3 linked regions of the Homo sapiens genome follow. The protein of the gene in region 3 purifies or fractionates together with the protein of the main gene of each other region. This does not show direct contact. Each region holds a gene or a part of one and is shown on either strand. Other genes may lie near its edges. The genes, in order: DNAJC13, HSF2 and HSPBP1.

Region 1 (3,653 bases), on a different chromosome or scaffold from region 3:
ATAAGTTGATAAGCTGAAGACCTTACAGAAATAGTATAGTTTGTTCTTGCATAAGCCAGGTTATGCTTCAAAGATAAAATGAAATAGAAATTAGGTCTATAAAGTTACAATAATGTGTATAAACTAAAAATATGTAAATGATCAATAGCAATGATTTCAAAGCATTGCTTAAGTGAACATGTTTCTGGAAAGAAAGCTTTCAGGTGAGTATTTTAAGGCATTTTTAAGCTTTGGAAAGGGAAGGGTCATAGTAATACATCTTTCACAGAAAATTTGAATTTTTTTAACAACAGATAAACTTCTGTTTTGTCAGAAATACAAATTATTCCCCTCAGATGAAATGAGCATACATGTGATAGAAATAGAAGAGACAGGTCTCTTTTCAATACTTGATTTATACTGTTGAATAGAAGAGGTCAAAAAAAGTAACTGCTATGGTAAGTATGCTTGTCCCCTCCTCCCATTAAGTGTTTCTTCAGATTTAGGGGTTGCTTTTGAATTTTTCTTGCCCTGTATTTCATTAATATATACTCAGTTTGTAATAGAAAGGAATCAAGTTTTTAAAAACAATGGTGGAGATCTCATATTATTTCAGCTACCCTATGGTAGTGAAACTAGTTAAAAGTTGATTATGATGTGACAGTACAATCACTTCACTTTAAAATATCTGGGCAATTATTTGAAGATATGATTATCAGATGAAATTTGATATTACCGCTGGCTTTTTTTATTCTTCAACGACATCTATCTCTGGAGGTATCGGGTTCTTCAGTAAGTTAAGGAAGGCTAAGATGGTAGGTACTAAAATCTTTGTGATGTATTTATGGTTTGTTTTAAGATTCCTGTTGGTATCATACATATTACACATACTGATTTGTTGTTCATTTAGAAGAAAATGCTTTTACCTGTACTTGAGTCATATATTAAAATGAAGCTAAAATTTAAAAATAGGGTTAAAGTTCATATGGCAGTTTCCCCCATACACAGCACATTCTATCTAAACAGTTTAGTTGTAGCTATTTAATCTGGGTAAAAATGAACATTCTGTTAGCCATTCATATTTTTTACCATTTGTTTGAAACCAAACTAATCTAGTGCTATGATTTACTCAGATTTTGAATCCAGTTACAAACAAACCTAGATCCTCAAGAAGCCAATATAAGATATTCTATCTATTACTCTTATTAGTTATTTTTTCAAAGGGTTAGTCTTTCCATGGTTCTCCTTACTACCCCTCCCTTTTTGGTAAGATATAGCTGTAGGAAGTATTACGTTCATAAATTAGTTCCTATGATGTGAATGTCTGCTACATTTTAAGTGTGGTTTTGGAATGTAGCATTGTTTCTGTTGTAGGAGAGTTTGATCAGAAAAGGCAAACTCCACAATTTTCACCCAACATATTGTAAACATTTTCACCTACAGCCAGGTTGAAAGAACTTTACATTAGATACCCACATGCCCACCTAAAGGTTTTTACATTAACATTTTACTGTACTTGCTTTATCACAGATCTGTCCATCTTTCCATCAATCCATCTTATTTTTTATGCATTTCAAAACAAATTCACATTTTTAGTTATTGAGGGCAGAGCTAATGAAAGTAAGTTCCGTTCTTGCATTTTACAGACTCAAAATGGGAAAATCAGTAGCTTACCTGTTCTCTGCAAGTTGTCATATTTGTGTAAAAATTACTTCCAGTTGATGATGCTAAATACGTGCTTTAAACAGGTGACTAGCCTGATTAATGCCAATCCTTCTTTCACTAGTGTATTTTTTTCTAAGTGTATTCATTCATCCCTAGTTAAATGAGTGTTCTGCTTGTGTTTTTGCTTAACACAAGCCATGTGTATATACTTAATTTTGCTGTGTGTGTAAATTTTTTTGCTTATAGCTTGACCGTAATTGGCTTGAGTGTCTGTGGTGTTGAGTCCCTTCATCTTGCTTTTGTTCTTAGTGTCAACTTGATGTAGGCTTCTTCTCACTGGACTCCCAAATCCTGTGGTTTTCTGTCAAAATTATGTGTCTTCTAAAAGATCATTCTCATTTTAACCATAAATGATCTTAAATGGTTTGCCAGTATTACTGCCAGTAATAAATTAGAGAATGCAAGAATATTGTGTTGTTCGAAAGCATGATGCAGTAGTATTCATTGAGAGAGGTGAATCTAGCCAAAATGCCTGTGTTGCCCTGAATTTGACTTTTTAACCCATAGGACAGTTCTATAAAAAGAACAAACAGAAGTTTCTTTGGTGGTGTAATTTAGGATATAGCATGAAAACAAGTGAAGCTGACTCGCAAAAATTGGAGATGCTTTCAATGCAATTTAATTACAAAAGGCATGTAAATTTGATTTTTCCTCATCAGAAAGAATCATGGGTCTTTGAGAATTTGAAATATGGAACACAATTGCAGGAATGAAGGAGATGAAATTTAAGTGACGTTAGTTTGAGCAGATAAATTCCTGCTATTTCGAATAGCCTCTAAACAACTGGCAGAATGGCAAATGCTAGTGATACAGCTGCTACCAAGATCTCATTCAAGATCCCATTTAACTGTTTACATTTTTTAGTTGGACAGTTTGTGGTTGTTGATAGCATGTGCTTATATTTGACTGTTACTGATATTACCTGCTTGATACTTGAGCTTCTGATACTAGAAATTTTACAGATTTTTTTCATCATAAATAGTGGAAATCAATGGTTGCTTAAGAGTTTTTGCCTATAAGTGATGATTTTTTTGAATCACTTTTAGAGCTTATTAATGTACAGAGGAAATATTGACTGCAGATTAAATTTATTTTGTGAAGTTTTTTTTTTCTTGAAAGTTTCTCAAGCCATAGTTAATTTGTAGCCATCAAACATAAATTTAAAAATATTAGGTTGGATACATGTAAGGAAACAGTTCTAACAACTGAAATTTCAAATACCTAAGTGGGGAATATTAAAAATGTAGTAAATAAGATTGACTTGTAATAGTATTTTGTAGGAATAAAGTTGAAATAAAAGACAAGCTTAAGTGTTGGGTTATAGTTGACAAGATGATTTTTAAAAATTTCATCTATCCTGATTATCTTGGTGTTTATATATACATATGTGTGTGTGTGTGTGTGTGTGTGTGTGCACGTGTGTGTGTGTGTATATATATATATATTTTTTTTTTTTTTTTGAGACAGGGTCTGACTCTGTCTCCCAGGCTCGAGTGCAGTGGCAAGATGAGGGCTCGCTCACTGCAGCCTCAGCCTCCCAGGCTCAAGTGGTCCTCTGACCTCAGCCCCCCAAGTAGCTGGGACTATAGGCCTGTGCCATGACACCCAGCTAATTTTTTGTATTTTTAGTAGAGACAGGGTTTTGCCATGTTGCCTGGGCTGGTCTTGAACTCCTGGACTCAAGCGATCTGCCTGCATTGGCCTCCCAAAGTGCTGGGACTACAGGCGTGAGCCATCGCACCCGGCAATATTTTTTTCTTTTTAAAAACGTTTTATGGGAAACATAAATTGTAACAATAAAATAATAATGACAGTAACAATAATAAATGGCATCCTCATGTACATCATTCAGTTTAAGAAATATATATTGTTATAGTTATTTTTGAATGGTTAAGTAAAAGTGAATGCTGATTAAATCAATAGAACACTGTACTTTTGAAGGTGAACAT
Region 2 (3,653 bases), on a different chromosome or scaffold from region 3:
ACATCATGGCACCTAGAAAAAGAAAGATATTTATTTAAGGAACCAAGCTCTATGCTTGTAGAGCAGACAATGAAGAATGAATTTGGAGCAATAAATTGATAACTGGCCCATAAACAGACTAGGATTTGTGAATATTTTAGGTAAGGTGATGAGGAAAGCCTCTCCAAGGAGACGATGTTTGAGGAGAGATCTAAATGATTAGAAAAGATGGGCCAAAGGGGAATGACAAAAGGTAAGGCCTTGAATGTGGCTGTTCAAGGAAGCAGGAAGGCCCATGTGATTAGAATATCTTTAGGGAATTAGGAGAGTGAGAGTAGGGAGGTAGGCAGGAGCAGATGGTATAGGGCCCTAGATCTATAGTAAGAAGATTGGAAATGAGGGGACCAGTTAGAAGACTATCACAGTTTTCCTGTATGGTATTGAAAATATTGATGGCTGAGACTAAGGTAGCAGCAGTCAAGGTATTGAGATGTAGCTTTGAAATCTTTGAAGGCAAAGCTGCAGGATTTGCTGATAAATTGATAAATTGGCTATGGTTGGAGGAACGACAATTAAAAATGATTCATAAATTTGGTTTGAACTACAGGATAAATCCATTTGCTGAGGAAAGATGTTAGAGATTCTTTTTGGCATATTAACTTTGAGATTAAAAATGGATCTCTAGTAGTATTTGAAACAACTTGAAAATTGTTTAATTTTTCTTAAATTTGACCATGCCTAGTCATATGGCCACACCTAATTTCAAAAGGGATGAGGAAGTGCAGTGCTAGAAAAAAAAACAGGAGTATTTTTGAACAGCTTGACTGACTTCCACACTCCAAAATGTCCAAGTGGAAATGTTGAATAGGTGGTTGAGTATAAGACTTTGGCATTCAGGGTGGAGTTTAGACCTTGTAACTGGTAAAGCCAGGAGACTTAATGAAATCATCTTCTGTGAAGATAGAAGGAACCAAAAGATGTATTATTCCAACATTTAGAGAGTATGAAGACAAAAGCCAGCAAAGGAGGCTGAGACGGAACAGTGAAAAAGAAGGAAAATCAAGGGAGTGAACCCACAGAAGTTAATGAAAGAAAATGGCTCAGGAAAGAGATCAACTGTGTCACATGCTGTTAGGAATATTCTTGTATATCTCTCCTGGTGTATATAAGCAAGAGTTTCTCTAAGGTCTGTACACTCATGTGACTTGCTGGGATATAGGATATGAAATGTCTAACCTCAAGATAGTGTGAATTATCTTCCAAAGAGATCACACCAGCTTATTCCGCTATTAGCCATGTATGAGATTTTCTGTTAATCTGCCTCTTCAAAACTGTGTATTAGTTATCGTTCTTACTTTTTACCAATCTAATTGATGTAAAGCATTGTCTCAATGAGGTTTTGATTTATATTTTCTTGATTATTAATGAGTTCTAAAACCTTTTCACGTTCGTTGGCCATTTGTGTTTCCTGTTCTGTGAAATGTTTGTTTTGCCATTTTTCTGTTTTTTTTTTTATTATTTGTGAGAATTCCTATATATTCTACATATTCGAGTTTATGTTTTGGCCATATCTTCCAGTTTGTGGCTTTTTACATTTTAGTTGTCTAGCACCTTTACTGAGTAGTTCTTCCTTTTCCAATGATCTATATTGCCACTTCTATCTTACGTCACAAGTACGTGTAGATATTGTCTTAATCAGTTGGGCTGCCGTAGCAAGATATCATAGACCAGGTGGCTTCAACAACAGGCGTTTATTTTTTACAGTTCTGGAGGTGGAGAAGTCCAAGATGAAGGCAGTGGCCATTTCAGTTCCTGTGTTAGAGCTTTCTCTGCTTTGCAGACAGCTGCCTTCTCTCTGTGTCTTCCCAATGGCAGAGAGAGAGAGAGAGAGAGAGAGAGTGTGTTCTGGTCTCTCTTATCTTATAAGGACACCAACCTAACCTGGGGGGTCCTATCTTCATTACCTCCTCTGAACCTAATTACCTCCCAAAGGCTCTAACTCCAAATACCATCATATCAGGGGCAAGGGTTTCAACATAGAATTTTGGGGGACACAAACATTCAGTGGTTTTGTTTCTGGAGTCTTTATGCCATTCCATTGGACAATTTATCCTGTGCCTGTCTTCTGCTGTCTTAATTACTGTAGCTTCAGAAAAAGTCTTTTGGTAGGGTAATCTATCCTTCAGGAGTGCCTTAAGTATTTTTGGTCTTTAGCTCTTCCACATATGTTTTAAAATCAAGTTCCATAAAAAAAAAAAAAGCCTTTTGGATTTTTGCTGCAATTGGATCAAAACTATATAAATCAGATTAGGGAAAATCGATATCTCTGTGTTGTGTATTCTCATGACAAGGCATATTTCTAAATTCATTTTGTTGATTTATGTTTGCTATTAGGCCTTGTGGATCTTTGTTCATTTTCTTCCTGGATATCTTATATATGTTGTAAATGGTGTTCTTGACTTAAAAATAGATTTCTAGCTGTTGCTGGTAATTAGAAATACAAGTAATTTTTGTATATTGATAATAAATCAGTGAGCAAATCATTTTACTGATTTCAGTTTTCTGAGTACACCCATAGTATCTGTGATTGACATTTATTTTCTTCCTTTCAGACCTTTATGCCTTCCGTTTTTCTTTTGGCAGTAACTAAGAGTGAGTAGAAGCAATTATCATGGCATTCTGGCTTTGTTCTTAATTTTTAAAGGGAATGTTTTAATGTTTCCCCCTTACTAGCTGTTAGAATGAGAGTTTTTAACTTCATTTTTTTTTTTTTTTTGACATCAAATGTTGTCGGGTGACTTAGTGAGGAAGGGACTTGGTAGAATGGAAGACACAAGAAAAGATTGACTTCCGGGGAAACAGGAAATGGGTTTAGAACATACTGAGTTAAAGAACATAGTGTAAAAAATGTTAACATTTTAAATTGAAGTGTGTAATTTGAGATGATCAGGGACAGAGCTGTAGATGTGTTTATTATAAAATAAAGTCAATAATAAGATACCCTACTGTGGATGAATTCTAAGGAAAGAATATGAATGGTGCCACGATTAAGGATAAAAACCTGGAAAATACAGCTACCTCTTATTTGATAGGTGGAAGAAAATTGAAAGGAAATATAAGAGATAAGAGACTCAACAGTGTTTAGCATCAAAGCCCAGAGAGTCGAACATTTAAGGAGGAGATTGTTAGTTGTACCAAATGAAATGCCACAGAGAGGTGTAGGAAGATCAGGACTGAAAAGAGGGCATTGAATTTGATATTTGACATTTTAGAAATCTGGTTTCAGTCGAGTGAGGGAACCAAAAGCAGTTTTCAGTGAGAGTAAGTGGATGGTCCTGAATTGGAGAAGGGGGGTTTAAAATACCTGCTTGTTAAATTTTGCAGTTAAGGAAAAGACAGATGGGTAGATTGAAAAAGAAGGTATAAGAGGGAAAGTTCTTTTAAGATAGGAAAAGACGTATGCATTTTAAGCATTTTAATTTTGATAATTACCTAGTTGCCAATACTGGTTATTGTCAAGGGTTGTAAATTTAATCTAATAAGGGAAAATCATTATTTGTTTTGCTCTACATTCTTCATTTATGAGTCTGGGTCTCTTCTAAATTTCACAATGTGTTTTTCATCAAAATTGTGTTTCTGTTAGGAAGAAAGTAGAGGAGAGTAGAGATAGAGTA
Region 3 (3,653 bases):
TTTTACTCCAAGCAGCAGAGCTCACAGAAGGTTTGAGGAGAGCTCACTTCCATTTGGAGGGGTTGGGTGGTGTAGCAATTGAGGGTGTGGATTTGGGGTGTCACTTCCTTGGTTCATAGTTCAGGCTGTGCTGCTACATGGCAGTCTGGTTTGGGCAGGTCCTGATTACTTCCTCTTGTACGCAGGCTGGGCCGAGAGAAACCCCCAGGCCCGCACAACACCAGGCACAGAGTAAACGTAACGTGTCAGGCCTGGGAGTCAGGTGTCTTCATTTTGGACAGGGGCTGGACGGAGTTTGGGAAGCCCTCCTCTGTGAGCGCATGCAGCACCCCGAGAAGACCTGCAGTGCAGCCGCCACCCTCTAGCTTACCTTTCCCCAGTGTCTCCCCGTCTTATCCGGGCAGAGAACTCCTGCTCCAATCCGCAGGATGGCTTTTAACGACTTTGCTCTTTCATTCATTTTTTGCTTGTTCAGGAAATATCTGTTGAGCAGCTGCTGTGTGCTAAGCACTGTGCTGAGTGTCCAATCATCACAGCAGCAGCAATTTTACACCTTATTAGTAATCAAATGAGAACGAAAGCCAAAGATACCACTTCCTCCCTGGCCTCGTGCGCTCTCTGTGTATATAAATATAAATATATATGTGTATCTTCTCTGTCTTAATGAAGATGCACAGTGCTGATGAAGGTGGGCTGAGGGGAACATCCTCCCATATGACTGTTTATACCACTTACAGTCAATTCAGAATGTTGTGCAACACCACCTCTATTTCCAGAACTTTTCCATTGCCTGCAAAGGAGACCCAGCACCCATTAGGCCGGCCCTCCCCCGGTCCCCTGGCAACCACTAATCAGCGTTTTGGCTGTATGAATTTGCCTGTTCTGGACATTTCATATAGATGATTATAACGTGACCTTTTGTGTCTGGCTGATTGTGCTAAAGGCGGCGTGCCCATGTTGTGGCGTGTGTCAGAGCTTTATTCCTTTTTTTTTTTTTTTTTTTTTTGAGTCAGTCTCCCAGGCTGGAGTGCAGTGGTGCAATCTCAGCTCACTGCAACTTCCACCTGCTGGGTTTCAGTGATTCTCATACCTTAGCCTCCCAAACAGCTGGGATTACAGGTGCATGTCATCAGGCCTGGCAAATTTTTTTTTTTTTTTTTTCTGAGACAGAGTCTCACCCTGTTGCCCAGGCTAGAGTGCAATGGCGCGATCTCAGCTCACTGCAACCTGTGCCTCCCGGGTTCAAACGATTCTCCTGCCTTGCCCTTCTGAGTAGCTGGGCTTATAGGCGCCCACCACCATGCCCAGCTAATTTTTGTATTTTTAGTAGAGATGAGGTTTCACCATGTTGGCCAGGCTGGTCTTGAATTCCTGACCTCGTGATCCACCCACCTTGGCCTCCCAAAGTGTTGGGATTACAGTCATGAGCCACCGCACCTGGCCAGGCCTGGCATTTTTGTATTTTTAGTATATAACATAGCAAAAACCCTGTTTTGCTATGTTACCTGGGCTGGTCTCGAACTCCTGGCCTCAAGTGATCTGCCCACCCTGGCCTCCCAAAGTGCTGGGATTATAGGCTTGAGCCACCACGCCCAGCTGCTTCATTCCTTTTTATGGCTGAGTAATACTCCGTTGTATGGCTAGAGCAGTTTATATTTATCCCTTTATCCTTTAAGGACATTTGGGTCATTTATGAATGATGCTGCCATGAACTTGAGTATATAAGTATCTGAGTCCCTACTTCTGGTTCTTTTGGGTCTGTGCCTTGGTGCGGAATTGCTGGGTCACGGGGAATCTGTATTTCATTTTTTTAGGAACTGCCACGCTCTCCAATACCACTTTATTTACAAAAACAGGAGGTGGGCTGTGGTTTGCTGACCCTGGGGACATTCAGATTGTCACAAAGACCAGGATCAGTCCTGGCATTTAGTAGTCTGGAGCCTGGGGCCCTAATGCCCCAAATGCTGATGGAATCGAGTTGTACTAGCCTTGGGGGGACCTCTGGTTGGGTGTTTGGAGAGAGCTGCGTCCCTGTGGGAGCCGGCCTGGCTCTCCCGGCCTCAGCAGCTGTAGTGGTCAGCTTAGGGCCACCTTAGCCAAGCACCACAGACTACTGGCTTTAAAAACAGAAATGTATTTTCTCACGGCTCTGGAGGCTAGAAGTTTGAGATCAGGGTGTGGGCAGGGCTGGTTTCTCCTGAGCCCCCCTCTCCTTGGCTTGCAGAAGGCATTTTTTGTGTCCTCCCTCCATGTTGTCCCTCTGTGGGTGTCTGTGTCCTCATCTCTTCTTCTTATCAGGACGCCAGTCAGATTGCATTAGGGCCCACCCTAAGGACCTCATTTTACCTTAATGATCTCTTTAAAGATCCCATCTCCAAAAACAGTCACATTCCAAGGTACTGGGGGTCAGAACATCAACCCATGCATTTTGGGGGGCACGGTTCAGTCCCTAACATCTGGCCTCTCTCTGCTCCCCTCTGTGGCACAGACTTCTGCCAGCTGTCTGGCATGCACCTGCTGGTGGGCCGGTACCTGGAGGCGGGGGCTGCGGGACTGCGGTGGCGGGCGGCACAGCTCATCGGCACGTGCAGTCAGAACGTGGCAGCCATCCAGGAGCAGGTGCTGGGCCTGGGTGCCCTGCGTAAGCTGCTGCGGCTGCTGGACCGCGACGCCTGCGACACGGTGCGCGTCAAGGCCCTCTTCGCCATCTCCTGTGAGTGTCCGGGTGGGGCTGGGGACAGGGGTGCTGGCGGTGGGGGGGGGTGCCGGGTGGGCCCCCGGGATCTGCTGGGGCAGAGGGAGAGGCATCTCCTTCCCTCGTTTGTTCCCATGCTTGTTGGACCCCTGCACGGCTGAGTGCTGCGGGCAGAGTGAGTGGCGCACTCGGCCAAACCCCCTGCTAGCCAGGCAGCAGATGTGACCACTTCCCGGGGAGACCACCTGGCCCTCAGCGTGAGCGCTTTGCACACAGCAGTTTTTCAGCTGGGCACTGTTCACACTGGCGCTGGTTCACTCTCTCGGGGGCCGTCCTGTGCACTACAGGACATTGAGCAGCATCTGGTGGGTGGCCTCCAGGCCATGGAGAGACACTATCACCCCACCTGCCAGCGCACAAATGCCCCTAGATGTAGAAAGCCCCTTGGTCAGAACCCCTGCTGTACATGAATTCTTCTTCTTCTTTTTTTTTTCATTTAACCTATATAGAGACAAGACTTGCTTTGCTACCCAGGCTAGTCTTGAACTCCTAGCCTCAAGGGATCCTCCCGCCTTGGCCTCTGAAAGTGTTGAGGTTACAGGTGTGATCCACCATGTCCAGCCACAAATTCTTTTTATCCTAATGGCCTGTGAAGTAGGGACCGTTTGCATCCTCATTTGACAGGGGAAGAAACTGAGGTGTGGGCAGAGGGACACGGCCAGGTTTCTGCAGCTCCATAGGGCAGAGCTGGCCAGGACTCCCCCAAATACTGCCGCCTGGGACACAGGCACCAGGTCGGGCACAGGGACGGGACAAAAACCAACATCTGTGGGGCAGTTTCTCCATGCCAGGTGTTGACTCGCTGAATCCTTATGCACACCTGCTGAAGTTGGGCCCACTGTGTCTCCTCCACACGGGAGGGATCGGGCCAGGGGGTCTGGAGAGGACACACAGAGCC

What was found.
Region 1: the proteins of HSPBP1 (region 3) and DNAJC13 purify together in Homo sapiens (affinity purification with mass spectrometry; 2 studies listed by BioGRID and IntAct, with this or other methods). This does not show direct contact.
Region 2: the proteins of HSPBP1 (region 3) and HSF2 purify together in Homo sapiens (affinity purification with mass spectrometry; 2 studies listed by BioGRID and IntAct, with this or other methods). This does not show direct contact.

Annotation. Positions count from the first base shown.
Region 1 is NC_000003.12:132,423,986-132,427,638, forward strand, and holds part of DNAJC13 (dnaJ homolog subfamily C member 13), read left to right. Parts: intron 1-3,653.
Region 2 is NC_000006.12:122,406,110-122,409,762, forward strand, and holds part of HSF2 (heat shock factor protein 2), read left to right. Parts: intron 1-3,653. UniProt on the Homo sapiens protein: DNA-binding protein that specifically binds heat shock promoter elements (HSE) and activates transcription. In higher eukaryotes, HSF is unable to bind to the HSE unless the cells are heat shocked.
Region 3 is NC_000019.10:55,273,458-55,277,110, reverse strand, and holds part of HSPBP1 (hsp70-binding protein 1), read left to right. Parts: intron 1-2,488; coding exon 2,489-2,713; intron 2,714-3,653. UniProt on the Homo sapiens protein: Inhibits HSPA1A chaperone activity by changing the conformation of the ATP-binding domain of HSPA1A and interfering with ATP binding. Interferes with ubiquitination mediated by STUB1 and inhibits chaperone-assisted degradation of immature CFTR.